7 linked regions of the Homo sapiens genome follow. The protein of the gene in region 3 interacts with the protein of the main gene of each other region in a pairwise test. Each region holds a gene or a part of one and is shown on either strand. Other genes may lie near its edges. The genes, in order: PHACTR3, ACAP3, TAB1, LAP3, NXPH3, KIFC2 and NR2C2.

Evidence for each region.
Region 1: the proteins of TAB1 (region 3) and PHACTR3 interact in a two-hybrid assay, tested with the Homo sapiens proteins (one large-scale study listed by BioGRID and IntAct).
Region 2: the proteins of TAB1 (region 3) and ACAP3 interact in a two-hybrid assay, tested with the Homo sapiens proteins (one large-scale study listed by BioGRID and IntAct).
Region 4: the proteins of TAB1 (region 3) and LAP3 interact in a two-hybrid assay, tested with the Homo sapiens proteins (one large-scale study listed by BioGRID and IntAct).
Region 5: the proteins of TAB1 (region 3) and NXPH3 interact in a two-hybrid assay, tested with the Homo sapiens proteins (one large-scale study listed by BioGRID and IntAct).
Region 6: the proteins of TAB1 (region 3) and KIFC2 interact in a two-hybrid assay, tested with the Homo sapiens proteins (one large-scale study listed by BioGRID and IntAct).
Region 7: the proteins of TAB1 (region 3) and NR2C2 interact in a two-hybrid assay, tested with the Homo sapiens proteins (one study listed by BioGRID).

Annotation. Positions count from the first base shown.
Region 1 is NC_000020.11:59,771,515-59,776,089, reverse strand, and holds part of PHACTR3 (phosphatase and actin regulator 3), read right to left. Parts: intron 2,812-4,575; coding exon 2,637-2,811; intron 1,848-2,636; coding exon 1,600-1,847; intron 1-1,599.
Region 2 is NC_000001.11:1,291,721-1,295,496, forward strand, and holds the end of ACAP3 (arf-GAP with coiled-coil, ANK repeat and PH domain-containing protein 3), read right to left. Parts: coding exon 3,727-3,776; intron 3,097-3,726; coding exon 2,998-3,096; intron 2,909-2,997; coding exon 2,682-2,908; intron 2,480-2,681; coding exon 2,370-2,479; intron 2,214-2,369; coding exon 2,103-2,213; intron 1,989-2,102; coding exon 1,844-1,988; 3' UTR 671-1,843; downstream 1-670. UniProt on the Homo sapiens protein: GTPase-activating protein for the ADP ribosylation factor family.
Region 3 is NC_000022.11:39,419,893-39,424,467, reverse strand, and holds part of TAB1 (TGF-beta-activated kinase 1 and MAP3K7-binding protein 1), read right to left. Parts: intron 2,642-4,575; coding exon 2,497-2,641; intron 1-2,496. UniProt on the Homo sapiens protein: Key adapter protein that plays an essential role in JNK and NF-kappa-B activation and proinflammatory cytokines production in response to stimulation with TLRs and cytokines.
Region 4 is NC_000004.12:17,579,673-17,584,247, reverse strand, and holds part of LAP3 (cytosol aminopeptidase), read right to left. Parts: intron 4,425-4,575; coding exon 4,309-4,424; intron 2,489-4,308; coding exon 2,434-2,488; intron 1,961-2,433; coding exon 1,855-1,960; intron 766-1,854; coding exon 606-765; intron 1-605. UniProt on the Homo sapiens protein: Cytosolic metallopeptidase that catalyzes the removal of unsubstituted N-terminal hydrophobic amino acids from various peptides.
Region 5 is NC_000017.11:49,574,534-49,578,670, forward strand, and holds the start of NXPH3 (neurexophilin-3 precursor), read left to right. Parts: upstream 1-1,337; 5' UTR 1,338-1,686; coding exon 1,687-1,740; intron 1,741-4,062; coding exon 4,063-4,137. UniProt on the Homo sapiens protein: May be signaling molecules that resemble neuropeptides. Ligand for alpha-neurexins.
Region 6 is NC_000008.11:144,468,816-144,472,573, reverse strand, and holds part of KIFC2 (kinesin-like protein KIFC2), read right to left. Parts: coding exon 3,740-3,758; intron 3,304-3,739; coding exon 3,195-3,303; intron 3,085-3,194; coding exon 2,927-3,084; intron 2,110-2,926; coding exon of another isoform or gene 1,984-2,109; exon of another isoform or gene 1,545-1,983; intron 633-1,544; coding exon 528-632; intron 437-527; coding exon 315-436; intron 214-314; coding exon 90-213; intron 1-89. UniProt on the Homo sapiens protein: May play a role in microtubule-dependent retrograde axonal transport. May function as the motor for the transport of multivesicular body (MVB)-like organelles in dendrites.
Region 7 is NC_000003.12:14,950,089-14,954,663, reverse strand, and holds part of NR2C2 (nuclear receptor subfamily 2 group C member 2), read right to left. Parts: intron 1-4,575. UniProt on the Homo sapiens protein: Orphan nuclear receptor that can act as a repressor or activator of transcription.

The sequences.
Region 1 (4,575 bases), on a different chromosome or scaffold from region 3:
AAGGGACTTATGGAAGGGCACCCCCAAACCAAGGGCACAGACTATGCCAGTGATTCTCAGCTGGGGGTGATTCTGCCCCTCAGGGGCATCTGGCCAAGTCTGGAGACATTTTAGATTGTCTTCACTGGGGGAATCCAGTGTGGAGAGGCCAGGGATGCTGCAGGATATCCTAATGTGTCCAGGACAGCCCCCTCCCCAGCAGAGAATCGCCTGGCCTCTTGCCACCAGCGCTGAGGCTGAGGGACCGTGCTCTAGCCCTTGACCATCCCAACACCAGCTCTACTCAGAAGTGCACCCTCATAGCACCCTCCTGCTGGAGGCTCACAGGTGTTTAAGGGCAAGGATTCCAGGGCCTAACGAGTTTGGGAACACCACAGGCTCCAGCCTCTTCAGAGAGGTTGGTGCCCTCAGGCCAGTGACCAGCTCCTAGTTTCTGCCACAAAGACACTGGTTCCGCGGTGGCAGTCAGCCTCCTCCAAACGCACAGGTGACAGCACCCCCACCCCTTTCATGTTGTGCAGCCACATACTCAGAATTGCTTCCTCGGACCCGGTGGAAAGGCTCCAAAGCAGCAGGAAGCGGGAGGCTATGGAGCCCTGGGCTGCCGGTCTATCCACCCATCACAGTACCCACCGCATGCCTTCAGTACCAGCCAGGGTCAGCACCGACATCTGATGCCCTTTCCTGCTCCCCACAGACACCCAGGGAGACGTGGCCTGAGCTTTGCCCATGCCCGCAACAGTCACCATGAGATGCTTCCAGGAAGAACAGCAACGGACGCTTCCTGATCCTTCCCTTGCAGGCCAAACACCACGGCCGCCCTGGACCTTCCTGGGACTAATCAGAGGGCCCCGCACAGCCAGTACCAGCTGGGAGGGAAACCCCCTCAGCACTTCCTCCTCCTGGCCTGAGCCTCCTTCTCCCTTCATCACAGGGTGGTCTGCAGGCCTCTATCGTCCCGAGCCCCGGAGTCCTCAAGGGTAGGATGGAGCAATTACCTCATGGGAGAACGCACCATGAGGACAAATACGGAGCTGGCTTCCAAGGACCCTGTGAGCATCTGCTCCCAAACAAGCGTATGCTGCCTGTCCCATCCACAGCACTTCTGAGACGGCCATTTGAGATCAATAGAGCAATCTCTCTTCCTCCCTCTCCCCCTGCTTCCATCTCGTCCTGCTTTACTTGTTACAGTTTTTTTTTGTTTTTGTTTTTGCTATAACTTCTGTACACTGAGCATCTGTACACCAACTATATACTGTTCGCCACAGCATCCTCAGGGGTGGCATTCTCTAAGTCACTTGCTTCACCACTTTTATGTTGTTTTTTTTTTTCACATACACATGAAAACTAATATGCAACTCTCAAAACAATTTCACCGGGGTATTTTCTAGTTCCTTGCTCTAAGCCTGGCTGTGCACCCCCACCCCAGCTTGTTTCAGGAGAAGCTCATTTCCAGAGGACACAGCCCCCCTCTTGTTTCTCCCCAGGTGCAGCCCCTCGACCTGTTCCTCCCCCAGGCACGAGCTCTGTCCTCGACCCCCTGGTGACACTAGACCTCTGGCCGAGATCCCCACACTTAATGGGCCATCCTTTCCTCACCAGAAATAATGGAGTCGTTCAGCGCCTCCTCGTCCTGATACAAAAGCAAGTCGTCTTTGAGTTCAGAATTTATGATCAGGTTCTCCTTGTTCTCCTCAGATTCCTTAGCGGCAGTTCGCTTGTTCTCCAATGCCCCGTCAAAGCTCCAAGCCTCCTCCCTCTCCTTGCCCCGCTCCACGCTGGACGTTCTCGACAGACGGACATCCAGCCGCTTCTTTGGAGACCCTTTACTTTCTCTTCCTTGAAAACTAAACCAGAAAGATGGTTCAGGTTATAGGTCACCCCCTTCACCCAGAAACCCAGCACGATTGACTTTGGAGCTTATAATGAATATCACAGAGGCAGCCCCAAAATGCATGTGACCTCTTGGTTTTTATCCTGGACACACCAGAAGGAGCATGAGGATTTGAGTTCAAGGCAAATGGCTGTTTACAACATGCTGTTTTGAAAAGCACAGAACATGCAAGTAATAAAACCTGCCAAAATACATGCAATCAATGTTCAGGGCGAGGACTTCACAAAAACTGAGAAGGACATTTTGTTTGTCTAATATTCCTCCAACCCATACTGTCTCCTATTACCTATTTTACCTCTAATCTTTCACAGTCCATGAGACACATGTGATCCAAAATAAGAGTAAGCTGCAGGCACAGGCTGCCTTACACTCTTGCCCAGTGACAACTATGAAGCCCTCAGTGTCCTGGGACAAAGTGGAACGGCCACTTTTCTCTAAGTCAGTCTCTCCTGCAAAGCTCCCACCCCACCCTGGGTCCTGAGGGGCTCACGCACAGGACTTTGTGGCCAGGTTCCCATAGTGCACATTCACTGTGCACCCCGTCCCAGAATGTGGGAACCAAGATCAGCTATGCAATCTGCAGAGCGAGGTGCAAAATGAAAATGTGACTTCCTTGTTCAGAAAGTGACTGTAGAACGGGACACCCAGCCAAGGCCCTGGGCGTGGCATGAGCTGCACAGCCTGAGGCTGGCCAGGCAGGGATTCTGGCAGCACAGGTCTCCCTCATGGGGCAGGGCCTCACCTGTCCTGGCGGTGCTTCGTGGCCAGCGCCCTGTGCAGCTCCTCAATGACGCGGCTTGGGGGAAGAGGCCGGTGGACCGTGGTGAGATGCGGAGACCCCGTGGGTGTGGAGAGCTGGCCCCGGAGGGAAGGGTCGGCACTCTTCATGCTGGAGGCTTGGAAGAGTGTGGCTTGGCCTGGGGTGTGGGAGGAAGCAGCAAGAACATAGGTCTTCAGGAGCTGGGACCAAGGGTTTTGCTGAGACTGGGGACCATGAGCGGAAAGGACGCTCCCCTGCACCTCCAGGAGGGGCCCCAACTAATGCCAAGATGCTGGACCGGGATCCCTGCTCCCAAAGCTAGAGGCCAGGGTGCATCTCTGTCCAGTTCTGCTCCATCTGTAGGGCAAACCCTGTTAGGGGCCAAGCCTTGCAGACACCAGCACCAGCATCCTCCCTGCAGGGCGCTGGGCTTAGAAAAGCCTCCTTCCTGCTTCTCTGCTATGAATTCAGCTTCCTGAAGCTGCTTCTTGTTCTTGGGAAACCCGGAAGAATCTGTGCAGCCACCCTTCAGCCTGGATGAGCACCATGGTCCGCTCTGCCCTCCCCACAGCATCTGTTCCAGCACCTTGGGCTTGCACTTCCAGCCCCCAGAACAGTAAGGAATAAATTTCTGGGCTCCAACCCTCTCCCTGTATCTCTGCCAGGAGGATCACCCCAGAAGGTGAATTGGATCACTCTCCCATCTTCCTTAGGACATGATTCGAACTCATGGCCCAGTCTCAAGGCCCCTGGGGGTGGCCCCACTCGGCTCCCTAGCTGCATCTCCACCTCACTCTCTTCACTCCAGCATGTGAAGATCTCTCCCGTCTTTGAAGGCACCACACTCCGTCCAACCTGAGTCTTTGCATGGGCTGTTCTTTCTGCCTGAAATGCTTCCCCGCTCCTCTGCTAGAATACCATTTCCTTAGAGAGGCCATGATCAGATCCCTCGTCTCCTGTCCCCTGGGACCTGAGCCTGCCCTGACACTTTTCCTCTTACTTGGAGTGAATCACGCTGCCCAGTCTGTTTCTTGCTCCTGGGCAGGCCTGTGTCCACCTTCCTTCCTACAGTTTCCCCAGGCCTGGCACTTAAAACACGGGCAATAAACACTTGTGTACATGAAATGACTTTGAAGATGATTCTAAACAGGCTTTGCTCATTCAAGTCTAAATGAGTGGGACACCCCCTCCTTCCATCAATGACAGTCTCCTGCATGTGCTCCGGGCCAGCAGGGTGTCAGGTGCCCGGAAGAGCAGAGAGCATGGGCTTTGTCTTCTGCAGATTTGGCCTCTGGTCTTGATCTGCCATTTCCCAGTATGCAAGACTCTGGGCAAGTCACTGAAGCTCTCAAAGGCTTAGCCTACTTGCCTGTAAAATGAGACCATCAGCTCCTTTTCAGGAGCCTAGCAGCTGGCACAGGCCCAGAAGCTCTTAGGTGTTCAGCACAAACTCTCATTCCAAAAGCGTCCTGGCAGGACTGGTGCAAACACCAGATCCCTTTAATCCCACCAGCAAAACAACCAGATCTAAACTACCCCATTCCCTAAAAACCAGAAACAAACTTCCAATACAATCCTGGGATGTGGACAGCATCAATAAAAAGTATTCCTCAAAACCCAAAAGGAAACTGTAAACCTCGTGGAGGACTTTAGTTATTTCGCTTTCTCTACAAGCACCTGCTTGGCCACACAAGGCCAGGCCACAGGGAAACGGGCCAGGCCCTGCCGTCAGCTGGTGGAGACAGACAGAGGCCAGGCAGACAGAAAGAGAGCAGATGATTGTAGAATAGAGAAGGAGACAGAAGGAGAGGGAGAGAAAAGGGCTGGGAGAGAGAGTGGTGGAGGGAGGGGGGCGAGAGGGCACCACGCAGGTGGGCTGAGAGTACTGGGCTGGTCGGGGGGAGGTGGTAGCTGGTTTGGG
Region 2 (3,776 bases), on a different chromosome or scaffold from region 3:
CACGCGGCCGTGGGGAGGCAGGCACCGGGCATGTCGGCGCCTCTGGTCAAACCACCTACACTGCCTGGGGTGGGTCTCAAGGAGGCCCGGGGCGGAGGGGGGTTCCCGCGTGCACACGAGTGCGGCTGGACGTGCCGACACGCGGTGATGTACCCATGCTCCGTGTGTCTGTGTCTGCATGTCCACACGTCTGATGCACCTGTGTACGTGTGTCAAGCCTAGCCACCTCAGCTGCAGGGAGGCAGAAGGCAAGGCAGGCCCCACGGACACACTTGGGCTGCTCTGAAATAAAGCTGTTGACTCCACCTGGCGGCCAGTGTGTGCCTGTGTGCCCCTCCAGCCGCCCCGCGCCCGGTGAGCTGAAACCCTGACTGCACCTGGCGGGACGAGCCCCAGCCTAGCCTCGCCGGTTCGCGTCCACCCCTCTTCCCACCAGGAAACTCAGTCTAGGACAGAGAAGGGTAGAAGGGCGAGACAATGGGGACCAGGGGCATCAGGACCCAGATTTTGTCAAACGAGCCCCAGGTCCCCATCAGGCCCCTTGCGGCCTGTTGGAGTCTGACTTGAGTGAGTGCTACCCGGCTCAGGAATGCCCCTCGGGGAGGGCAAGGGACACAGACACTCCCCGGAGACAGAGCAGAGCAAGGCACGGGAGCCCAGGAGCAGGCAGTGGGCGCAAGTGCTTTATTCAAAGCGAGGGGTGGGGGGTGAGACCCGCCAGCAGGGGCCTGGGGCAAGAGGCGGGGCCAAGCTCACACAGGGAGAGGGGCAAGAATCAATTCTGTTCTTCAGGGTCACAGGCAGCAGGCAAGAGAGTTGGGGGGCCGGGTCCAGCGCCCACTGTGCCCTCAGGGAGCCTCCCCAGGGCAGCATTGCATAGTGACCAGCCGACTGGCCTTAGCCTGACCTGCGCTGAGTGGGGGAGGCCCTGCCTCCCTGCCGGGCACCTTTGGGGAAGGGGTGCGTGAAGGCATTGGCAGGCCCTGCAATATGAGCCGAAAGACCCCTGGACCCAAGGGGGAGGCTGGTCAGGGGCAGGGCTGGGGCTCAGGCGTCCTCAAGAGTCCACAGAGAAAAGACGCAAGACAAAGTCAGACGAGGCCTATAGCAAACCCACTCGGTCCGCTACAAAGAACATGAGATGAGGGCTGCAAAGTGGCAAAGTGGCTTTATGCGCAGGCTCTGGGCCGAGTACCAGGAGAAGGTGCCTCCGGAGGAGGCCGGGATGCGGCTGGGGCTGTCTGGCACGGGGACCTTCGTGGCCAGCCACGTGGCCTTGGGACGCCCGCGTCCAGCCAGGGCTGAGGACCCAGGCCAGAGCCCCTCCCGCCCAGCACCCGCGACGCCAGCCTGGATGCTGGGGTCACTAAGTGAGGTACTCGTTGGTTCCCTGGATGGGCCACCCTTTCTGCCCTGGGAGGAGGCTCTGGGGTGTGCAGGAGGGAGCCAGCTAACAGGTCAGTGTTCTGGGCAGAAGTGGGGCACGAAGTAACACAGGCCCTGAGGACACAGGGACACAGGTGACACGGGCCTTAAAAGTGGCTTGTGACATGAGCAACCCAGGCCCCTGAAAAGGGGTGACCTGAAGACAGAGGTTCCCCAGGTGGGGTGAGGGACACCCGACGATGCAGCACCCCCCCAGGGAAACGTGAGGCTTCAAGAGACTCAGTGTGGGGCCCTCGCTCTCCTCCTGGGCGAGCAGGGCCGCGGCGCCCCAGCACTGGGGCTGCCAGGTATCGACCCGCGGGTCACACGCAGGGCCGCGGCCGGGTGGGCGCCAGGGACTTCGGGGCATGCGGGGCGTCGGGCCGGGCGGGGTGGCAGCTGCCCGGCCTGCCCGGCCCTAGCTCTCTTCCAGGTGGAGGCTGATGAACTCCTGGATACACCTGCGGAACTGGAGCTCCGTGGGGCTGCCCGCCAGGGCGCCCGGGGGACCAGGGGCAGCCTCGGCCTCGCGCATTTCCTCCGCCATGCGCGCCAGACGGAGCCTACGGGGAGGCACAGCGTGAGACGCCCCTGCCCTGGAGGCCCCGCCCCTGCCCTGGAGGCCCCGCCCCTGCCCTGGAGGCCCCGCCCAGCCCCGAGGGCCCGGCCGCGCTCACAGTGTCACGATGTCAGCGTTGGCCGCCTGCACTGCGATGGCCAACGGGTCCCGCTGCTCTTGGTCCAGGGCGTGCTGGTCCGCGCCCCGCTTCAGGAACAGGCAAACCTGGCTGAGGGGCGAGGTCGGAGGGGCGTGTCGGGGCGGGGCGGGGCGGGGCGAGTGTGGTCGCGGGGGCGTGGCCGGATAGGGCATGGCGGACAGGGCGTAGCCGGGCCGGGGTAGGCGTGGTCGGGGCACAGGGCGGGGCGTGGGTTGCGCGTCTCACCCGGTGCGGCCCAGCAGCGTGGCGTGGTGCAGGGGCGCCCGGCCCCGGCTGTCTCTTTGGTTCACGTCCGCTCCGTTTTGCAGCAGGAACTCACAGACGATCAAGGAGCCCTGGGGAGCCGGGGCAACTCAGACGGAGCCACGGCACCGGCCCCTCTCCGCGCCTCTGCACCCTGACCCCGGCCTTGGGCGCCCCCAGCCGGGACCGAACGTGGTCCCCACCGCGGACAGGCGACCCTTGTGTGGGCGCCACAGAAGATGCAAACGCGACTGTGCACCTGTGTCCTGCGCGCAGCCCCCGTGGCTCGCTCACCCCTAGCACGGCCTGCACCAGCGGCGTCTTGCCCTCATCCTCCGCGTCCGCCCAGTTGACCTCGGCCCCGTGGGCCAGCGCCGCCGCCAGCGCAGGAAGGTCGCGGGCACGCGCTGCGCGGTGCGCCAAGAGCCCCGGGTGCAGCTCGCGCACGTCCGCCAGGCCCCAGGCCTCGGCCTCAGTGTCCCCGTCTGCCTCACCGCTGGACTCCTCCGACTCTGCACCCTCTGTGGGGAGGGGGCGGTCAGGGAAAGCAACCCCCGGGGCTGCCCAGGGGCTGGGCAGGGGCCTCGGGCGAGGGCAAGACGCCACCCACCCTCCTCAGTGACGCTGTCCACCACAGAGCCCGAGCCGAAAGCCAGGACGTCCGAGCTGCCATCCGAGCTGCCCCCAAGGCCACTGTCGCTACTCAGACCTGCAGGTCCGCAGGGAAGGGGGTCCTGAGGGTGGGAGGCCCAGACTCCGTCCAGAGCCCTGGGGCAAGGCTGGAACTCCACCCACCCTCCAGGGGCCACCCCTAGGGACAGGACCAGCTCCCACCCAGGGCCGGGGGGAGCCAGCTGCAGGCTAGGAGCAAAGGAGAGAAAACCAAATAACAGCTCAAAGGTGCCAGGGGTAGCCCCCTAAAGCCCAGGCCTTTTGGGAAGCCCTTCCCTCCCGCTCGCCGCCTTACCCGGCACCCCCCGCAGTGGGCCCCCCAGCCCCGTCTGTGGCTGGCCCAGGCTGAAATGTCTCCACCCAACCAACGGGCAGCATGGCTCCAGAAGGGCCCTAGGCTGAGGGCCGGCTGGCAGCGCCCTCTGCTTCCCCAGCACCCCGGGCCACCCGCTGTGTGCACACACCCAGGTGCACACAGCCCACACACACATTTGCACAGCTCACCCCTGACAGTCAGGGCCTTGGCCTCCAGCTGTGTGGCCAGGAGGCCCCCCGCCCCTTCAGATGCTGCTCCATTCCCTGGCAAGGGCCATCCACACTCAGGCACCCTTCAGGCCAGCCTCCTTGGCCCTGCCCTGCCACCTGGCTGGGCCCACCCCACACTTACTGCGAGGGCCAGCCCCTGCGGCCCCTGCGTCGAAGTAGGAGAAGAGCGAG
Region 3 (4,575 bases):
ATCTCAAAAAAAAAAAAAAAAAAAAAAAAGAAATCAGAACACAGGGAACAGGGGATAGTTAGGCACTTGAGACTTTTTCGAAGTAGATCTGCATTCAATCCAGCAGTCTGGGCATCTACCTAAAGGAAAATAAGTCATTATATGAAAAAGATACTTGCACACGTATGTTTATAGCAGCACAATTCACAATTGCAAAGATGTGGAACCAGCCTAAGTGGCCATTGACTAATGAGCAGATAAAGAAAATGTATCTATAAACTATGGAATACTACTCAGCCAGTAAAAGGAAAGAATGAATGTCTTTTGCAGCAACTTGGATGGAGATGAAGGCCATTATTCTAAGTAACACAGGAGTGGAAAACCACAAACTATGTTCTCACTCGTAAGTGGGAGCTAAATGATGGGAATGCACAGGCATACAGAGTGATATAATGGAACTTTAGAGACTCAAGGCGGGAGGATGGCAGTGGTGCTAGGGATAAAACACTATACATTAGTTACAATGTACACTATAAAACACTATACATTAGTTACAACGTACACTATAAAACACTATACATTAGTTACAATGTACACTATAAAACACTATACATTAGTTACAATGTACACTATAAAACACTATACATTAGTTACAATGTACACTATAAAACACTATACATTAGTTACAATGTACACTATAAAACACTATACATTACTTACAATGTACACTACTGGAATAACTGGTTTACTAAGATCTCAGAATTCACCACTACATAATTCATCCCTATAACAAAAAAATACTGGTACCTCAAAAGCTACTGAAATAAAAATTAATTTTCAAATTTTAAAGAAGACTTTTTCCTCATGATATTGATTGATTGATTGAGACAGAGTCTTGCTCTGTTGCTCAGGCTGGAGTGCAGTGGTGCGATCTTGGCTCACTGCAACCTCCACCTCCCGGGTTCAAGCGATTCTCCTGCCTCAGCCTCCTGAGTAGCTGGGATTACAGGTGCCTGCCACCACACCCGGCTAATTTTTGTATTTTTAGTAGAGACGGGGCTTCACCATGTTGGCCAGGCTGGTCTCGAACTCCTGACCTCAAGTGATCCGCCTGCCTCGGCTTCCCAAAGTCCTGGGATTACAAGCATGAGCCACTGTGCCCGGCCAATACATGATTTTTAATTAAAAAGGACAAAGCAGGCTGGGCACAGTGGCTCATGCCTACAATCCCAGCATCTTGGGAGGCCAAGGTAGGAGGATCACTTGAGACCAGGAGTTTGAGATTAACCTGGGCGATACAGTGAGACCCTGTCTCTACCAAAAAAACAAAACAAAGAAAACAACCAAAATTAGCCAGGTGTGGTGGCACACACCTATAGTTCCAGCTACTCAGGAGGCTAAGGCTGGAGGATCGGTTGAACCCAGAAGGTTGAGGGTGCAGTGACCCGTGATCACGCCACTGCACTCCAGTCTGGGTGACACAGCAAGTCTTAAAAAAAAAAAAAAAAAAGTCAAAGCAGAAAAGGTTATCTTCCTACAAGAATCACAGAAAGGAGGAGGAACACAAACTGAACTTATCTTAGCCAGTCAGCAATCCAAGGAGGTCAGGGAAAGACAGTTTTCCTTTGAGACCATCCCTAACGTGACTGTCTTGAAGTCACACTTTGGTGACTCCAAGGTATAAGAAAAATAAGCAACTCTTGGCTGAGGGCCTGTGTCTACCACGCCTAACCTCACTGCGATCTCACAAAGGCAGATGTTACCATCCTCACTGTAGAAATGAGAAGTGAACTGCCGGGCGCGGTGGCTCACGCCTGTAATCCCAGCACTTTGGGAGGCTGAGGTGGGTGGATCACAAGGTCAGGAGTTGGAGACCAGCCTGGTGAAACCCTGTCTCTACTAAAAATACAAAAATTAGCTGGGCGTGGTGGCAGACACCTGTAATCCCAGCTACTTGGGAGGCTGAGGCAGAGAACTGCTTGAACCCGGGAGGCGGAGATTGCAGTGAGCCGAGATCATGCCACTGTACTCTAGCCTGCGTGACAGAGGGAGACGCTGTCTCAAAAAAAAAAAAAAAAAAAAAAAAAAGAAATGAGAAGCAAACTATAAATTGTCTGCCACTCAGGGAGGGCAGTAAAGCCGTCAGGCCCTTGGCAGGAAGTGATGGGTGTGGGAAGGACTCTGCACATCTCTTTCTGTGCTCTCCTCCTGGCCCTGGCCCCTTCCTGGCCGTCTCAGAGTAATGCCGTGCCCATAGCAATTCACATCCATCTCCCCCTCTTCCCTTCAGACCTTGCTCAGGCCCTGAGGACTGGCACTGCTTCAAGCCTAAAATGAGTCAAGTTTTTGGGTGGGATGGGTGTTTTCAGAGCTCTGGGATTCTCCTTCCCCCAGCTTTGAACCCAGAGATGTCTGGTGACGGCCTCCGAGAATCACAGTGCTAGAAGGCAGGGTGAGCACATCACCATGCAGGCCAGCCACGCTCTCCGGCCATGGGCGTGGCTGGGCCCAACTCACCTGGTTGGCCTGCCCAGGCCCATGGGCTGCCTCTAGGGCCTTGTACAACCCCTCCGACATCAGCACCAAGAAGCCCGTCACCCCATCCAGCGGCTGTGCCCCATGGATTTCTGGCTCTGCGATGATTGGTTTGGACTTGGCAGCGCTATGGGGAGAGAGTGGAAGGAAGAGCTTTGCTTGGAACAGCCCGCAGGTGGATGCTGATTCTGCTGAGGGGAGGAATCTATGCCCAGAATGTAAAATAAAACACACAACCTGACAAGAGGAAAAGAAAAGAGAGAAAGAGAAGGTCAGAAAAATAGACCCATCGTCTTACAGCAGCTGCTAAAATAAAGCTTGGAAGGCCATAAAAACTGGCAGGCAGCTGAGGTCAGGATGGCAAAGGTTGAATGCCCGATTCTGGCCTGTTCCATACGTCCTGTTCACAGGGTCCGGTGGTGGCAGGGCAGGGTGTGGGACAGCAAGAGGGAGGGATTATCCCTGGGAGCCCAAGCCTCTTGCTATTATTTGGGCTTTTCCAAAACAGATGGCTGAGACCCCAGATACTCTCCATGTGTACAGGGATCCTTTAGTGACTGGGGTCAGAGTCATTACATGCCAACACATGTGTGTGCACATGGAGGTAAGTACATGAGGAGGTGCTGGCAACACCATCCAGAAGAGCGGAGTCTAAGAACTTCCTGAGGGTCCGTCAGCCAGGGCTGGGCCCTGGGAGCGGTTATTACACAGAATGACGCCATCCTAACTGCAGGTGAGCAGAATGAAGAGATGAGCACCTTTAATGATAGCAGTGAGGGGTGTGTAAACATATCTCCAAACTCATCAAGTTGTATGCATGAAATAGGCACAGCTTTGCATATGCCAATTACACCTTAGGGTTTAAAAAAAAAGAAAAGAAGGAGGAGCAGGACACACCAGCACCTGGGAGGGGCAGGACACACCAGCACCTGGGAGGGGCAGGACACACCAGCACCTGGGAGGGGCAGGACACACCAGCACCTGGGTGTTCCGAAAAGGATGCAGGCTCCTTGGCCCCCAGGACAAACACACACACACACACACACACACACACACACACACACACACACAGAGAGAGACACCCCAGCACCTGGGTGTTCCGAAAAGGATGCAGGCTCCTTGGCCCCCAGGACAAACACACACACACACACACACACACACACACACACACACACACAGAGACACCGTGTGTGTATATGTGCATGTGGCCAGATTTTGGAACAGGATACACAAGAAACTAGCAGCCTCTGGGGAGGCAGCGAGTCCTAGAGTGTGGTGTAGGAAGACTTCCTTTCCCTGTATAGACCCCAGCACTGTCTGAAGTGTTTTAAACTATGGATGTCCTTTCCAATAAAGGAAACAGGACCCCACAAATTAGGGACAAATATTCGACACTCAGTTGCCTAGATCGCGTGAGGGCAAGGAGTTCTAACATGCACTTTCTAGGCCATGAGGCCTCTGTTGATGGGAACTCTGGCTTTGGGAACAGCCTTGGCCATGACATTAAATGCCATGATTGGCATCAGGCAAGTGGACGCGCCTATCTCCCCAACCAACACTTCACATACAGGTTACCTGACGGTTAAGGACACATATTCCAAATTCAGGCTGCCTGTGTTCAAGCCCCATGACCAGGGTGGGCTGCCTGATGTCTCCATGCCTCAGTTTCCTCTTATGAAAATGCCTCTGGGGTGATGGCAGTGACTGCCTCAGGGGGCCTGAGTAGGGAATGCATAAAAGAAGGTACATCCAGAGCTCTGCACGGGCTTGGCCGTGTGATGATGACTGCCCATTCTGCTGCCATGAGCGCTGGGGTGATGTCCAGAGGAGGTGTCCTCAGAGGGAAATACACAATTCATCTCACACCTCTGCTGCAGCCATGGGCAGCACCGACCAACAGGCCTGGTCTGTCCATCCCATGCCAACTCTGGCTTCGCCTGCCTCCCTTGTGGCACTAGTTGCTGCCCTCAGCTTTGGCCCAGCTCAACTCCACCCCTTGTTTCTACAGTACCCAACTCCTGGCCTGCTGGGCCTAACCTGCCCCAAACCAACCTCTCTGGG
Region 4 (4,575 bases), on a different chromosome or scaffold from region 3:
CAGCAAGGTCCCCCAACGAGTAAGTGGTGAAGCCAGGACTTAAGCCCATGCTGACTGGCTGCAGAGCCCGCACTCTCCCCCACTCCCCACAGCTGCCAACCCTTGGCCAGTGCCAGGGCCCCCACTGTGCTTGGCACCATCTGCTGAAGGTCTCATCTTATTTATTCCTGATGGCAGGGACCCCACTAGCCCACAAGGGCAAGGACCAAGCATCCAGAGGATCTCTTCATCTGTGTGGTGCTTGCATTTAGCACAAGGCCAGCAGGTGCCAGGTAAATGAATGAACATTATCTGGGTTGAAACCTGTGGGATATGTCTGTCATGTCATTCCTCCCTCTCAGGTAAGAGCTACCTGGTTATGGCTTCCTTGTAATCAGAGCAGGGAGGGGTCAGGGAGTCATGGGGGAATCAGACATATGCCGAGAGCCAGGAGCAGAGCTTGGGCTTAATTTTGACCACATTATTAAAATGGCTGAGGCAATGGGGAGGTCACAGCCAAGCCACGCAGCTGTGGGTGGCGCTGAAAAGCAGGCAGCTCATATCCCAAAAGCCAGGCTGTCAGAACGCCAGGGAGCACCACCCTCCTCCTAATTTGCTTCCATCACCTTCCATAGAGCTTTGCCGACACAGCCATCTTCTTTTTTTGCTTTAGGTCATCGTATTCATAGAGACCAAGCACCGCTCCCTCCGCAGCAGCCTGAGCGTCTCCACAGGGATCCACCTCCACAGACGAGAGCTCCAGGTCTTGAATCTGCCTGCACCCCGCTTGAAAAGACAGAGGAATCAGAAAACTGGAGTCAGTCCAAGACAACTCAAAGAGCAGACAGCAGAGGCATGATGTGATGTGCTGAGAAAACAGCCCTGGGGTTCAAATCCCAGCCCTGATACCCGAATGTTCTGAGCCTCATTTCCTCTTCTGTAAAATGAAGACGTGAGTGCATTTTACAGCAAGTACCTCACTCCCAGGTGGTGGTGAGGACAGGCTGATGGAGAGAATGAATAGCTCCTCCCAGAGCCGTACAGGCTCTCAGGAAGTGGCAATTATTCCTAGGATTATTTCTGAAACACTATGATTTCCTGATGAAGCTTCCCAATTGCCAAGAGCTTCTCTGATTAAAAATGACAGGGAAATGATGACGCTGAAATTATATCCAAAGAACTGAGCAAAGTCCATTATTAACACAGCATTTTATTAAGATCAGGTCAGCAAAAACTCTCAAAAGTTATTAAATAACCACTTCAATGATATTTGAAGTAAAGTTAATGAGCATTTATAATATACACAGGCCTAAATAGTAATCAAGCCAATTATCACTGTTTCAGAAATGTTTTACAAAGCATCTTTAATCATGGCTCTTGACGGTATTAGGCCCGTCCTGCTGCTTAATGCTAAGTGACTCAATGGCCCCTGCCTGGGACATACTGGGACAGGCACACACCTTTGGCTAGTGATAAACAAGCACGCCACGCTTTGCTTCCTTAGTCTCTTTATTTGTAAAATCTGATGACTCTGTGTTATTTAAAAGTCGGGAGGCATCAGGGTGGCATTACAAAAAATCTATACACTACAGGTTCTGGGAAAACACAGCTCTAATATGACAAGAGCGAACAAATGGTAGTAAAACACCCAAATGAGATATAGATATATTAAAAATAAAATTCCATTAGCTAACCTTCTGTATTTATCATAAGGCCAACCATATTCAGCAAGAGGAACTGAATTTTTGTTAAGATGAATTATTTCTGTGTGAACGTGGTAAGGGGTGGCAACTGGTAAAAGGACAAAAAGGGGAAAGAGAGGTCATCAAAAAGAGTGGATCCTCAGGATTCTTTAAACTTAAAAAGTGAAATAACCTGCAACAGCAGCTCTGATGTTTTCTTTGCCTTCATGCCAGTTTTCCTGTTCGTCGATTCCAGCTGCCTTTTTGCCGAGGCCAACTAGCACCACGCTGGGGAAGTCCTGTCCCACAGATACACCAAATCAACCACTTTATTTCTTTCAAGCATTCATTTCCAGCAAGGAATTCTACATGTGGAGACTCACTGAGCTCCCACACAATTACTTTAACTGCAGCAACAGGGCTAAACGCACGGTGAAATTTGGTTGTGGCTTTTTTTTCTTAAAACCTTTGTGTCCTGGCAAAATTGTATAACTTATAGGTTTGAGAGGCAGAGTAAGTGAGGATACTCTTGCAAATAATTCTGTGTAAGCCAGAGCCACAACCGGATAAAGAAAGCCTTCAGATTGAGGAATATAAGATAGGCAGTAGTTTTTGACAGCAAATCGCCTCTTAATCTTAAATGTTCTGCTTAATAGTGGAATAAAATCATACAATCCAACACATAATGTTTAGTATGACTAGACAGCCCCAATACTTGGTGTACAGTAGATGCTCATTGAGGGTTTACCAAATGATCACGTTCTTCTCATACCTGATGCAGACCATAAAAGGTTCGAGTCTTCCCTGCCTTCAGAGGTGGTCCAGATCTAAAACAAGAGGAAATAGTCGTTTTAAAACAAGTATTTTGCTCGGTTCACTTGGGAAGGCACACTTACATACTCGGCATTATCACACTATTCTGCTAACTGCTTCCATGGTCTTTTTCACTTATGTTTTTATCCAAATACAGAATGCTCTCAAGCCAGATTTCTTTCTTTTTTTTTTTTTTAAATAGAGACAGGGTCTCACTCTGTTGCCTAGGCTGGTCTCAAACTCCTATGCTCAAGCAATCCTCCCACCTCAGCCTCCCGAGGTGCTAGGATTACAGGTGTAATACAGATTACACTGCTGATCTACCGTGCCCAGCCCAGATTTCTTAGGTGTAGCCTTTCTAATTCTAGCTCAAAAACTATTTAACAAACTTTCAGATTAGATCTAACACAAACATATTTAAAAACAATGGAAAGCAATGCTACAGCTGCACAAGGCATCTGAGCACGGATTGACGCTGAACCGAATGAATCTCAAACCTTTTTCAATAAAAGCCACAAGACACCAAAAACACTGCAGTAATCTAAGTGGTGGTTGGCTTGGAGGTTGTATATCTATGTGGTTTCTCCACAGACTGGATACCCGAACCGGATACTGACTATCCTGGGCAATTTCCAAACAAAACAGATCCATGACTATAAGAGGCCCGTAGCACAGATGCTCTGGAATGCAGCTGACAGCCATCCATTAGCAAGGCAGGCGTTCTGTACTCACAGGTTAGCTTTTGGATTAATGAATTAATCAATGCACTTGAGAATGCTCTGTGTACTACAAGAACTGATAAAAAATTGAGAGGAGATACAAATTCTCTTAACCGATTATTAGTTACTATAATTATTAGACTGCATCTATTAGGTTCCAATAGGCTATCTATAATCCGAATAATACATAGTTGCAGTGGTTTACATGGATACTTCCATGTCTGCCAAATACAGCATGCAGTTACAATGTTTCCCTACCATCAGGATCTCCAGCCCCATGGAGACTTTTTGTATTTTAACTATATCCTCAGGTGATTCACAGATATTTTAAATTTTGAGAAGCCCTTGAAACTTCAGGCAGGCAATAAAAGAGCAAAACCCTTAGGCTGCTATTAACTATCCTAGGGATCCTGCTCTCACAAGAAAAGGGGAGTTAAAAGAAGTAGAGAGGCTGGTGGGAAGGCAGCTGGGAGGAAGAGGGTGGGGAAAGTGAATTTGAGCCAGGAGGGTGGGCTGAGGAAATCTGGTACTTTCCAGATTATTCTGGATCAGTCTTTCACAATAGATTTCTGATTGGGCTGGAAATGGCCTGACTTCCCAGAACTGCAGACCCATCCATACTGAAACAGAAAGTACCAAAGTGCATTCCAAAGACACAGGCTTTCACTTCTGCTTCTGGCCAGAGCACTTCCCGGCATTGTCTCTTCTGACAAAAAGGCATAGAAAAATATTCTTGGCCTGGCACAGTGGCTCACACCTGTAATCCCAGCACTTTGGGAGGCCAAGGCAGGCAGATCACTTGAGGCCAGGGATTCAACACCAGCCTGGCCAACAACAGTGAAACCCAACTCTACTGAAAAAAAAAAAAAATACATATATATATATATATGAAAGCCGGGAGTGGTGAGGCATGCCTGTGATCCCAGATACTTGGGTGTCTGAGGCACGAGAACCACCTGAACCCAGGAGGCAGAGGTTGAAGTGAGTCAAGATCGTGCCACTGCACTCCAGCCTGGGCAACAGAGCAAGACTCTGTTTCAAAAAAGAAAAGAAAGAAAAAATACTGTTTCGATTTGGGGGCACTTTAAGAACTAGAGCCCACAAGCAACACTTACATGTTCAAAGTCTCTCTCAGCTTTCCAGCTAACAATTTATCAAAATTCTCTCCTGCACTTGTGAACTGTGGCACATCATCTTCTTTTTCTTTGGAATAGATTCCTAAAACAAGGCCCTGGGAATAAGCAAAAAACGTAAATATAATAGAATTAGAGTAGATCCCTTAGAGAGGCTCAGGAGTCCCCAAATTCCAGAAGGAACAAATAATTCCACCCAAACCGTGTCCTCCCCATGGACAGAAGAAAGCAAAAAAAGAAGCAGGTGCT
Region 5 (4,137 bases), on a different chromosome or scaffold from region 3:
AAAGAGCTGTTGCATCTTGGTATGGCCCAGGGTGCCTGGAAATGCAGGGGGCTCTGTGATGCTGTCTGGGTTTTGCAGAATCTGTCTCCCTCATCGCACTTGGCCCAGGCTGATATTAAGATTCATCTGCATTCCCCGCGCACCCGCCTGGCAGATGGTGGGGGAGGAGGCTGGGTGCGTGCCGGGGTTGCAGCCACGGGACCAAGCTGGGCCTTGGAGGGCCACAGAGCAGAGTGCCCACCCACCGTGCTCCTTGGGCCCAGCCCAAGCTGGGACCACTTCAAATGATGGGGTGCCTCCTCACCTTCATAGCCTCCAAGGGATGCCAGGACTTGACCTTTCATTTTTCTACAGACTAAAGGGACCCTGGAATTCCAGGAGGGAGACCTGAAGATATGGAGTGGGGGTGATGGAGGATGGGCCCCCATCTTTGGGAATCTCAGATCAGGGTCGTGTTCTTCCTCCTTGCCCTGGAGGTTTGCAGAGACCCCACTGGGACAGGAGCCACTCTCGGCCTGGTGACCCCTGTGGCATAGAGAGGGTAAGTAGTGAATAATGAAGGGACAGGCTCCAGGAAGGCCTTGCTCCCCTCACTCTCCAGCTTCTCAGGACCTGCCCCCGGCCCCAGAATCTAGCCTGGCCCCTAACAGCCTTTTCAGCCCAGGGGCCCAGCCAAATACTTCCTGTCACAGTGGCTGGACCGAGAAGGTCCAGGGATTATCTCAGCCCCTCCAAGTAAAGTAGAAGAGGGAAGGAGCAGACATCATAACAAAAGGAGTGCAGGCTAGACACCCAGAAGGACTTCCCTCAGCACAGGTTTTGGCTCTTAGAATGGGTTTTTTAAAAAAAGGATCTTTCTTAATTCCAGGACTCCTGAGTTGGGGGCAGGGCAGCCGATTCTTGCTGCCCGCTCCCGGGGAACGGGCGCCCTGCAAAAGAGGTGGAAACGGTAGGGTCCGTATCCCCTGGCCACCACCCTCTCCCTTCCTCTCCAAGAGCTACTCCGCCCCCGCGTGCCGTCCTCTCCTGGCTGGAGAGCCGGCGTCCTAGGTCCCCGGGCTGCGGGCCGGCAGGGGAGGAGTTAACTCCGGAGGTACCGGCTGGGCTCACTGTACCTGCCGCCGCCGCCGCCGCCGCCGGTGGGAGGGACGAGGAAGCGGGAGCCGCCTGGGCGCCAGGAGCGCTCTAGTCTGGCGGGGCGCAGCGCAGCGCGGGGAGCGGGCGGCCGGGGCTCCGCGCGGCTGGGGGCGTCCGCCAGGGGGCGCGCCGCGACGGGGCGGGTGGAGCAGCCTGGTTTGGGGAATTAGCACCAAGGACGGGCGCGCGCGCAGGTCCCCAGCACATCTGGGCGAGAGCGGCGCCGCTGGAGCCGAGGGGGGCGCCGAGCGCAGATCTGGAGCAGCAGAGCCACGGCGCAGCTGGGGCCCTTCGAGGCGCTCGGGGCGCACATCTGGGACCTCGAGCGGGGGCCGTGCCGCGCGCAGCTGGACCAGGGGAGGGGGGCGGCGGCTGCACAGCTGGACCGAAGGGGGCGGGGTCGGCCCTGGGCGACCCGCTGAGGGGAGGGCCGCGGGCCGCCGGGGACTGGAGCATGGGACGGCGCGCCTGAAGGAGCAGGAAGGGGAAGGAGGCCTGGGACCCCGAAAAGAGAAGGGGAGAGCGAGGGGACGAGAGCGGAGGAGGAAGATGCAACTGACTCGCTGCTGCTTCGTGTTCCTGGTGCAGGGTAGCCTCTATCTGGTGAGTGGTCCGAGGGGAGCTGCGCAGAGGGGCGGGGGCCCGGAGGATCGGGGGAGAGCGCGGGAAGCTTGCGAGCCCTGAAACTTTCTCCCTTCCCCCGACATCCCGGGGATGGCGGGGAAGACTGGAGGCTGGGGGAGAGGGCGGGTCCGAGGCCGGAGACTGGACAGATAGGGTTAATAGGGGCGGGGAGAGGGTGCTTGGCTGGCCCACCCACTCCGCAGCGGGTGGCTGGAGGTGCGACCAGCGCTCGGAAAAAGGCCTGGAGCCGGGTCGCCAGGGTTACCCTACCCCTTCCCAGAGCCTCAGGACCGCTGAAGCCGGGGGCGAGTGGGGCGCGGGTCGTGGAGCTGGTGACCTGCAGGCTTTTCCCCTGACCTCTGGGACTCAGAGAGCCTCGGGTTCTGGGTCCCCCAGAGCACAGAGCCGGTCCAGGCGGGGGGCGGCCCCCGCGTCCCTCCCCTCCCGCCTTCCCTCCCGCTCCCTCCCTCCCCGCCTGTTGTTTTCCTCTGCTCTCCCGGCTGCGCGCAGCCGGAGCCCCACAGGACTTGGGCAGGCGGCTCCCGCCCCAGGCACTCGCGGCAGCTGAGCGGAGCGCCCAGAGCCCGCTCCCCGTGCGCCGGCTCCGCGGCTTCTCGGCGACCCAGGGCGCCGGGGATCCCCTCCCCGAACCCAGCCCGTGGCTTAACTCCCCTCCGACCGAGCGCCCGCTGACCCTCCCCGCAATACTGTCGTGAAGCCTCAGCCCCACATCTGGACCTGCCCCTTTAATCAACAAGCCCCTTGCCACCGCCCCATGCCACTGTGGGAAGAGCCCTTCCCTTCTCACGGCCCCACCTTTACCCTCCAGCCACTCAGCCGTGACCCTCAGGAGCAAGTACCTACAGGTCTGCAGCCCTAGACCCAGACCCCGAGCCTCCCGTCCTAGCCGTCCCTCTACCCCACCTCTGGGGCCTGGCAGTCAGGGCCAGCCTGAACTGTGGGGCAGAGACAGACTCGGCCACAGCACACAGCTGCCGGCAACACCCAGGCCAGAACACAGGCATGAGGACCCCACAGCCCCTTGGAACCCTACTGTCCCCACCCCAGTGTCACCACCAAATCCAGATGCCCCCCGGTGCTGGTAGTAAAGACACCTAGGGCAAGTGGTTGCTTTCAAAAGCTGAGCAAACCCACAGCCAGGCTGCGCCTCAGGAAGCCCTGTCAACCCCCTGATGCCCCCCACTGCTGTCCCACTCTCCCTGTGGCACCTCCAGGAATCTCCCAGGTGTGGGTTGTCACCACAGCTGATCCAGCAGAGGGAGGATGAGCCCCTGCAGATTCCAGAGGCGGATGGCGCCTGGATAAAAACCCTTTCAAAAAGACACATCTGATCTGTGAGGCCAGGAGTGTGGAGTGTAAAGGAAGGGCTGACCCTATGTGAACTCAGCCTTGTAGTGTTGTAATCTCTGAGCCCCAGTGTCCTTATCTGTGAAATGGGAATAAGAACTCCTACCTCAGAATGCAAGTAACATCGTGGCATGTCATCATCAGTGTACCCTGGAGAGGTGTTTGGCTTTCCATTCCCATGGCCATCCTGGGTGTGGCATTCACTCCGGGTCTCCCCTAGTTCTCTTGCCAAACCTAAACTATATTCGTGCTTGAGAATTACACTGTGTTCTGCTTTCTTATTCCATTGTCTGGTGGTTCTCTTTGCATCTAAGGGTAGAAATTATCCTAGGGTAGGGACGGTGTCTTACCCAACAGACTAGGAAGTCCCAAAAGGCAGGGGCTGGCCTCTCCTGTCAAACCAGGGGCTCTCCCAGGATAAGAATGGTGCTTCCCTGTCTGACTCGGGGCTGTTTCAGAGCAGAGATTATGCCTCCCCCATCAGCCTGGGGATTTCACAGAGGCAGGGATTCTACTTCCTATCAAATTGGGGGCTCTGTCAGCACAGGGATGATGCTTCTGCAATTAGATGGGGGCTCCCCAAGATCAGAAGCTGGGCTTCCCCCATCAGACTGGGGACTCCCTAGGGGTAGGAGCCGTTGTCCCTGGTGCCACAGTTCACTGGAGAGAATTATTGTCGGTCTTTGAGACTTTGAATTTGAATAGTGGCCAAGACAGTGAGGAAAGGACAATGGGGGGGGGGGTGACCCAACTGTCAGAACCTGAGATGTACACAAGCTAGAGTGTACACTTGCCCCCCAGCTTCAGTGGGCAAGACGCAGGAGCTCCTCACCCAGGTCAGAGTGAAGTGGCAGGGACAGGGGTACTGCTGGTAGCGGGGGTGGTGGACCTCCAGGGACAGGGCTCTCACTGTACTCACAACTCCCTCCATAGGTCATCTGTGGCCAGGATGATGGTCCTCCCGGCTCAGAGGACCCTGAGCGTGATGACCACGAGGGCCAGCCCCGG
Region 6 (3,758 bases), on a different chromosome or scaffold from region 3:
GAAGGCGGGGCGAAGGGCTGGTCAGGTGCAGGGTCCCCGCCCCCAAGTGGAAGCACGGGGCGGGGTCTCGGAGAGCGGTGCAGCCCTACCTGGTGCAATGTCTCCAGGTTGGGCACGTCCCAGTGGGTGAGGCCAGCCACCTGGATCCCGCCCTGGCCTTCTGGGCCCTGCCTCACGGCCAGGCGCTCGGGAGGCCCTGGAGCAAGGAGGTCCCTGGTGAGAAAGGGGAAGGTCTTGGTTCCAGAATTCTCTGGAAATCCGGAAGGGCCCTGGGCCAGGGGTGGGGAGAAGGCCTCCCTGGTGGAGTAGCCCACCTGACAGCCTCATTGTAGATCTCCACCATGCTGAGTGTCACCCGGTGCTGCCGGCCGGCCCCCATCTCCCGGAACAGCGACTGCAGCGCCCTAGGAACTATGCCGGGGTCCTCAGGAGGGCCCTGAGGATGGGGTGGGGTGCACACCGGGCTCACATCCAAGTCATGCAGGGCCCCTGGGGCCTCTCCCACTGGGGCGTGAGCTCTGTCCCACCTCCATGCTGTAGGTCTTCCCGGTGCCTGTCTGGCCATAGGTGAAGATGCAGACGCTGTAGCCTCGGAGGCAGGACAGCACCGCAGGTTCCAGCTCTCTGAAGACCTGCGGGAGGCGGGAGAATGTGTTTTGAGTCCTCCCCACGTTGCCTGTTTATGCCCTATTTGGTGGGGTGGGGAGTGCCACGAAGGCAGGTGTGAGCAGAGCCTAGTCTCCTGGGAGGATGGCTCTAAGGGACCATGGGGGAGGGTGTGTCCTACAGAGACCCTCTGTCTCCCTAGAGAAGGTGGTGCTTGCAAGAATTTGCCAGGCAAAGAAGGGAAAAGACACAATGAGAAGAGGAACAGCCTATGCAGAGGCTCTGGAGTCCTGAAGACCACGTAGGAGACCTGGGGACAGCAGTTAAGAGCGCAGGTGTGGTGTCCTTAATGTGGAAGCCAACGTGAAAAAAAGAAAAATAAATCCCAGCATTTTGAGAGGCCAAGGAGGGTGGATTGGTTGAGCTCCGGAGTTTGAGACCAGCCTAGGCAATACGGTGAAATCCCGTCTGTACAAAAACTACAAAAAAATTAGCCAGGCATGGTGTTGCACATCTGTGGTCCCAGCTACTCGGGAGGCTGAGGTGGAAGGATCTCTTGAGCCCAGGAAGCAGAGGTTGTAGTGACCTGAGATTGCACCACTGCACTCCAGCCTGATGACAAAGTGTGACTGTCCAAAAAAAAAAAAATACATATACATATATATGTAGTAAAAAATTTTAAAAATGTTTAAAAGAGCCCAGATGGGCTGGGCGAGGTGGCTCACGCCTGTAAACCCAGCACTTTGGGAGGCCAAGGCAGGCAGATCACAAGGTCAGGAGTTCAAGACCAGCCTGGCAAACGCGGTGAAACCCCTGTCTCTACTAAAAATACAAAAATTAGCCGAGCATGGTGGCACGCACCTGTAATCCCAGCTACTTCGGAGGCTGAAGCAGGAGAATTGCTTGAACCCAGGAGGCGGAGGTTGCAGTGAGCCGAGATCACACCACTGCACTACAGCCTGGGCAACAGAGTGGGATTCCATCTCAAAAATAAAGAAAAAAAAAAGAGCCCAGATGTTGGGGCGTGACTGCACGGTTCAAACCTGGGTATGATTGGAGCTTACTCATTGGCCTTCCTGTGCCTCACTTTCCCCTGAGAGATAAGGGCTGCAGTGGCACCTGCTGTGAACACTTGTGGCAGTGCACCTAGAGGGCCGGCCACACCAGTACCTGGCTCACAAGGCGTGACCCCAGGAAGGGCCTGCAGGTACGGGGGATGGTGGCCAGCCAGGCCTGCTGGAGCCCAGGCACAGACAGGTGCTGAGAGAGACACAAGGTTAGGACATTCACCCCATTGGCACTGGACACCAACAGTCTTTTGAGCAACAACATGGCTGGCTTTTATGCCCAGAAGGTCGCTGCTAACAGGGTGGGCTGTCAGCTCTGTTTGAAGACAGCCACAAGGCTAGAATCTAGAATTCTGTGTTCTGTGTGGTCACTGAGGTTCCATGATTGGATGGAGGTGGCACTGAGGATGACATTCAGGAGCACATCATGGCACCACTGCAGAAACAGGAACACAGATGAGGGGCTTGTCCACAGATGCCTTTGGTTCAGACACATTGACTGAGAGGACCCTGTCCAGGACGGCTGTCCAGAGGACGGTGCACAAGGCATGCCCTGCGCAGTGCTGCAGTGTGGGGTGGGGCTAAGGCCAGAGGGATGTGTGGGATGAAGGAAGAAGTGGTTGGAAAAGAGGCAATCAGGGTGACCCTGGCCACCTGCTGGGCAGTCGTCCCCCTGTCCCTGTGAGGCTGGCAGGCAGCCTGGTTGGGAGTCGCTGCCATTCTGCCCCTTACCTAGTCTCCCCTGGCTCTGAGCTGCCATCTCCTTAGCTATGGGAGCTGTAGCAGCAAAGGGCATGTGCAGATGAAAACGTGTGTGAAAGTGGGGTGGGCTGGGGCTGAAGCCCCTGCTTTTCCACAGGTGTCTGGCAGGAAAAGGGTGGGGAAGGAGAGTGGGATCCAGGCAAGGCAGAGAGAGCACACTAAGACTAGAAGGTTGCCTCCTCACCCACGGCCCCCACCACCCACCGCCTGCCTTGGGGCCATAAAGCAATGAGGGGCCCTCATAGCTGGGCAAACCCTGGACCCCAGCAAAGGGGAGTGGGCAGGCAGTGAAGCCTGGGAGGAGGAGGCACCAAGCTGGGCTGCCTGCCCTGCTTCCCAGCCCCCTCGGTTCCCTTTCCTTCCTGGCTAGAGCCCAGCCACCCTCTCTCCTCCAGGTGGACACCCAGACTGGGAAGGGGAAACTGGAGCCTCTCCTGCTCTTCAGGGAACTCTGAAAAAGGGTCAGGATGGCTGCAAAGGCAGGCTGTCACCTCCTCCTGGCTGGCGTCTGGAGGGAAGACCCAGTCTAGGCGGAATCGACGATGGCGCCCCCGGTAGCAGGTGGTGACGGTGCCCCCTGGGCCAGGCTCCACACTCACAAGGCTAGAAGATGTCCCTGGCCTCAGCCGACACAGCACACGGATATTTCCTGCAGTGGGGATCAGGTCAGCATAATGCCTCGCAGACCCTAAAGCACAGAGAAGCTGCACTTCTTCCAGCCGCCCTCCCTGCCCCGCTAGGCTCCCAAGCCTGTCATACCCTTGAGTTCTGGCAGCCGCCCTGGGCATCCGGCTGGGGGCCCTTGCTGCCCCTCAGGGAGCTGAGTGCCAGGCCCTCCAGATGACAGTGCCCCCAAGGCCCAGGACACCTGAGGGAACAGGGATGTACAGAAGGCAAGGGGTCAGCCAAGGAGCTGCGGAGGTGGGGGGTGGGAGGGTCCTGAGAGCAGCAGGGAGCCCCCACAGGCCCGCTCAGCTGTGCTAAGCCACAACTTTCAGTGGCTCTGGGCCCCTGGGGACATCATTGAGTAACCCCAGGATAAAGCCCAGGAATGACAGGCAGGAACACCACATCATCTGTCTCCTCCGTGCTTCTGGGCAATGCTTTAAGAGTTTACTGTCAACCAAGTATGCATAGAATTAAAATAAGGCCCAGAAGTGGAATCCCACCCTGGGTCACACAGAAGCTGTTTGGGTTCCAGAGCCCCACTTATTAGTACAGCCAACTCCCCAGGAACGCCCCCGTCAAAAGAACAGTGAATAGGCTGCCCAGAGAGGAGGGGCTAGGCGGGGAGGGGTCCTGACCTGGCCCCGGGCCTCACTC
Region 7 (4,575 bases), on a different chromosome or scaffold from region 3:
TACTGGCATTACTTTATAATATTATTGCACTGTTTATAATACACTTTTTGGTATGTCTGGCTTCTTTTGCCCAACATTATTTTTGTAATAACCATGAGAAGTGAATCCATTTTCACTGTCGTACAGTATTCTAATGTACGACTATGCCCAATTTATTTCTCCATTCTATAGCTGATGAACACTTAGATTGTTTCTAGTTTGGAGTCCTTATGATTAGTGCTCCTATGAACATTTTCACACATGCCTTTTGATGTACTGCTTTCTTTTCTTCGTTTGAAAATTTTACTATTTTTAAAAATTAACTGTTTTACTTTTATCTATTTTTAATTTTTATTCTCGAGAAAGTACATTGTTTATTTCTTTAGAAAAGACATATTATAAATTTATTTTATTTTTAAAAATCTGTATTATATTAAATAAGTCAACAACACAGTCTAATTATTAGCCTTTCCAGTTAAAAGCTGATATATACTTTGTGACATCTGCTTTTAGTCTTGGTAAAGCAATCAATTAAAAAATGATTTTTCAATTCCAGGGTTAGTCATCTTATCAACCTAATAAAAAGATGCATCATTACAGACACCATAGTGGTGGGACAGGGGACAAGAACGAGTGTGGTACAAATGACATATCCAAAATGTTCTAGAAATAATACCTAATCAGATTCACTATACAACAAATACACTGGGGGAAATGCAGCATGAAGCCCGCTAGTATTGTGTAACTTCTCAAGAGCCATCCAGCCTCAGTTGTTTTTTTTTTTTTTTTTGAGATGAAGTCTCGCACTGTCGCCCAGGCTGGAGTGCAGTGGCGTGATCTTGGTTCACTGCAGCCTCCACCTCCCGGGTTCAAGTGATTCTCCTGCCTCAGCCTCCCGAGTAGCTGGGATTACAGGCGCCTGCCACCACGCCCAGCTAATTTTTTGTATTGTTAGTAGAGATGGGGTTTCACTATGTTGGCCAGGCTGGTCTTGAACTCCTGACCTCATGATCCGCCTGCCTTGGCCTCCCAAAGTGCTGGGATTACAGGGGTGAGCCACCACGCCTGGCCATACGTGAATCTTTCTTTTTAAGGAACATGGGTGGGCAGTCAGGTAGGAAACTTTTTCCCCTGCATAGCTTTTATCAACATATGAACAACAAAGGTAAATAAAGCAGCTCCCTGTAAAACCAGGAAGCCTTCAGGCTTGAGTCTAGCCCTACCAGCCTCTCATTTCTCTTCACTTTTCAGCAGCAGTCACCCCATTTTCCAGGCCCCAAGACCTTTTCTCACACCTCTCACTAACGCAAACAGGGGGGAAATATTCTTTTACACTTGGGCACTTGGAATGAAATTCCTCTCCATCTACATGTTAACATTTCAGGGATTAGAATCTTTGAGGTAACTGTTAATAATTATGGAATAGAAAGTTTCACCTCCTATTAAAGGACTTCAGGCCTCTTATTACAGTGAAGGAGGTACTTTTTATTGCCCCTAAAAAATCACACTTGCCTCTGAGGCTGACTTTCATCATTACAGGCCAACTGGAGTCCAAGGGTAACACAGAAAAAACAGTTAAGTGTCTGAGCTAGCCTATTCCCTTTCTGTCCTTAACAATTCACCTCCCATCCTTCTATTCTAAGACTTCCAGGTACCAGGGGTCTGCATCTGCATTTATTGTACCTTTAACAAATGCCTACGCCAATGCCCTGATCTGGCTTTCATCCCTCTAGTCATTCCCACTCCTCATCATTGTTGAGCTGTGCTAGTTGAGCTGTTGTTCTTGGGCAGTTCTTCCTTTTGGTATAGAGCTCCTGCTGCTTTACTCTCTAGCACTCAGGACCTGAAGTGAGCAAGGGGAGTAGGACTGCTACCTCGGGTAGCAATAGTGGGATATGGGGAAAGAGTGGCAGGATGGGAGAGAATGACAGAGAATCTCAGCCTCTGGCATATTAAGTTGAAGGCAAGCAAACCTCCAACGAATAAGGAAGAACATATCTTTTACAATGTGTAACAGGAGCACAAATGTATCCATTAAGTTAAAGATGATGATCACACAGGGAAGAAAAAAGGCATCATTTAAGGCCCTCATAATTAGCAATAAAGTAAAAAGAGGTAAACGAAAATCTAGCAGGGGATCCTTACATCAAGGCTGGACTTGGGGTCTAGACCACTTCCAATTCTGAGATTCTAAGATTCCTTCACGGACTCCCCCCGTGTGGTATTTTTTAAGATGATACTTGTACAGGAGATGGTTTGGGACTAAAGGAGCGTATGGCTTATAGGTAAGAGAACTCAACAATAAAAATCCCAACGGAGGGCCCTCGATATGTGGAGACACTCAGGCAGCTAGACACAGACCAGTGGCTCAGTGCCACGGCTGAAGACAGGGCTGCTCCACAAAGACTCACCTCCCTTGTTCTCAAAGTCATTCAGACAACAAGTATCCGCTATCCCTGGCCCCAATCTCAATGCTGGCTCCCACCTCCCTGTTTGACAAATGGGGAATTATAAGCCTCAGAGAGGCTACCAACTCCAGGTTCTGAAGCCAGGCCTTTCTGCCTTCATAGCCCAAGCTCTGTCACTGCACTGCCCTTGCCATGTTACTCCTTGGAGACAGATGCTAAAAACTTCCCAGTTGCTGGGCGCAGTGGCTCACACCTGTAATCCCAGCACTTTGGGAGGCCGAGGCAGGCGGATCACGAGGTCAGGAGTTTGAGACCATCCTGGCTAACATGGTGAAACACCGTCTCTACTAAAAATCCAAAAATTAGCCAGGCGTGGTGGCGGGCACCTGTAGTCCCAGCCACTGGGGAGGCGGAGGCAGAAGAATGGCGTGAACCCAGGAGGCAGAGCTTGCAGTGAGCCGAGATCGCACCACTGCACTCCAGCCTGGGTGACAGAGCGAGACTCCCAAAAACAAAAAAAAACACACAAAAAAAACTTCCAGCCATCCTCATAAAGTGAGGAGGTTGTTACGCACAGGGATTTTCTATAAAAGAATGATCACGAAACAAAACTTAAAAGTCACTGTGAATACAACTACTGAAAGCAATAAATAACTTAACGATGTAAGACAACATATAGCTGTTTTACTAAACTAGCAGTTCTTTGGTTACCCTGAGTAATTAGCTTAAGGAATTGAACAAGTGATACCAAAAATCTTTGAGCAAGACAGAAAAAAAAACCCAAAAATAAACAGTTAAACTATTATTATTTTTAAAATACCATAACAATATCTTATTTTAAAAGTTTTACAATATAAAATAAGTTAATACAAATGTTTTATTTACCACACTTTCGAGTAGAAACTTGATGTATACTTAACAAAATTTGCTTTTAACCTTGGTAAAGCAATTAAAAGGTGATTTTCAATAATTTCATTAAATGAATCAATTTATCTTTAGAAAGATAAATATCCCGAATTAATGGCTACAGAGACTTTCAACTCCCAATTCCCTGTGAACCCACTGGAGGCTTGTTCCTTCTCTCCAATCCCCTGTGATGGTGAGACAAAAATCAGAATATTTGATTTCAAGAAAATCATGGTAGCTTAGTGCTTCGTTTCTTCAGCTAAAGTAAATAACATAAGTTATGTTTGGGCTATTTATTTCTTCACATATGAACTTATTAACTTTCATGCACTTAAACTTGTAATTCAATCATAAAAAAATGAGTGGGAAAAACTATTGAAATGGGTCATTTTATCCATATTTATGTCTCCAGAAAGTGGCATATCTGTCAGAAATCACTTGCTAAATTCAACCAAATACCGTAACAGGCTTATTATTGCTGGCAGTGCTATCTGAATTGCCAAAGAGGCTCACACAAAAGGTATCCATCAATGTACAGCAACTTAGTTATCAGTGACATCATAAATTATCAACAATTCATTCAACAAATAGTGCCAGGCACTCTTCTAAGTGCTGGATAAGTAATGGTAAACAAAATGTATTCCTGCTCTCACAGCTTACAGTGTGGTAAGGACAGACATTAATCAAATAATCACATAATAGAGTGTGTAATTATAAAGTGAGATAAAGATTATAAAGAAAAGAATAAAAAGAATCTGATTTAGACTGGCAATGGGAATTAGGACTTCCCTGAAGAAGTGATGCTTGAGCCAATATCTGAGGTAGGGTGGGGGTGGGGGGTAAGCTTACACTGTAAGCTACACTGGTCAAGGAAGTTGAAGGTAGGCCAGTGTGTCTAGAGCACAGGAAGCTAGGGGTACCACAGATAAGAAAATAATGAAAAGCCTTGGAAAGGTTTTTAAACATGGAACAGGAAGCCTCTGCCATTACGTGGGTTCTAGTGGCGCCTGAACAACATACTGCCTGTAAGAGAGTTCTGTAAATCATAAAGCACCCTATACTTTGGTTAGTACTATTTAGTTCCATTATTTTGTTTTCCAAACTTTTGTCCTGGATGCCATGTAACTAGCTGCAAGCACAGAGCCAAAACTAGAATCTCGGTGTTCGAATCTATTGTTTTTGCCCCTACACCACACTGCATAAAAATTTCATTATTTATATCACTTAATTAGTCCAATGTCTATACCAGTAGTTCATAATGACAACAATAACTCTATTTACA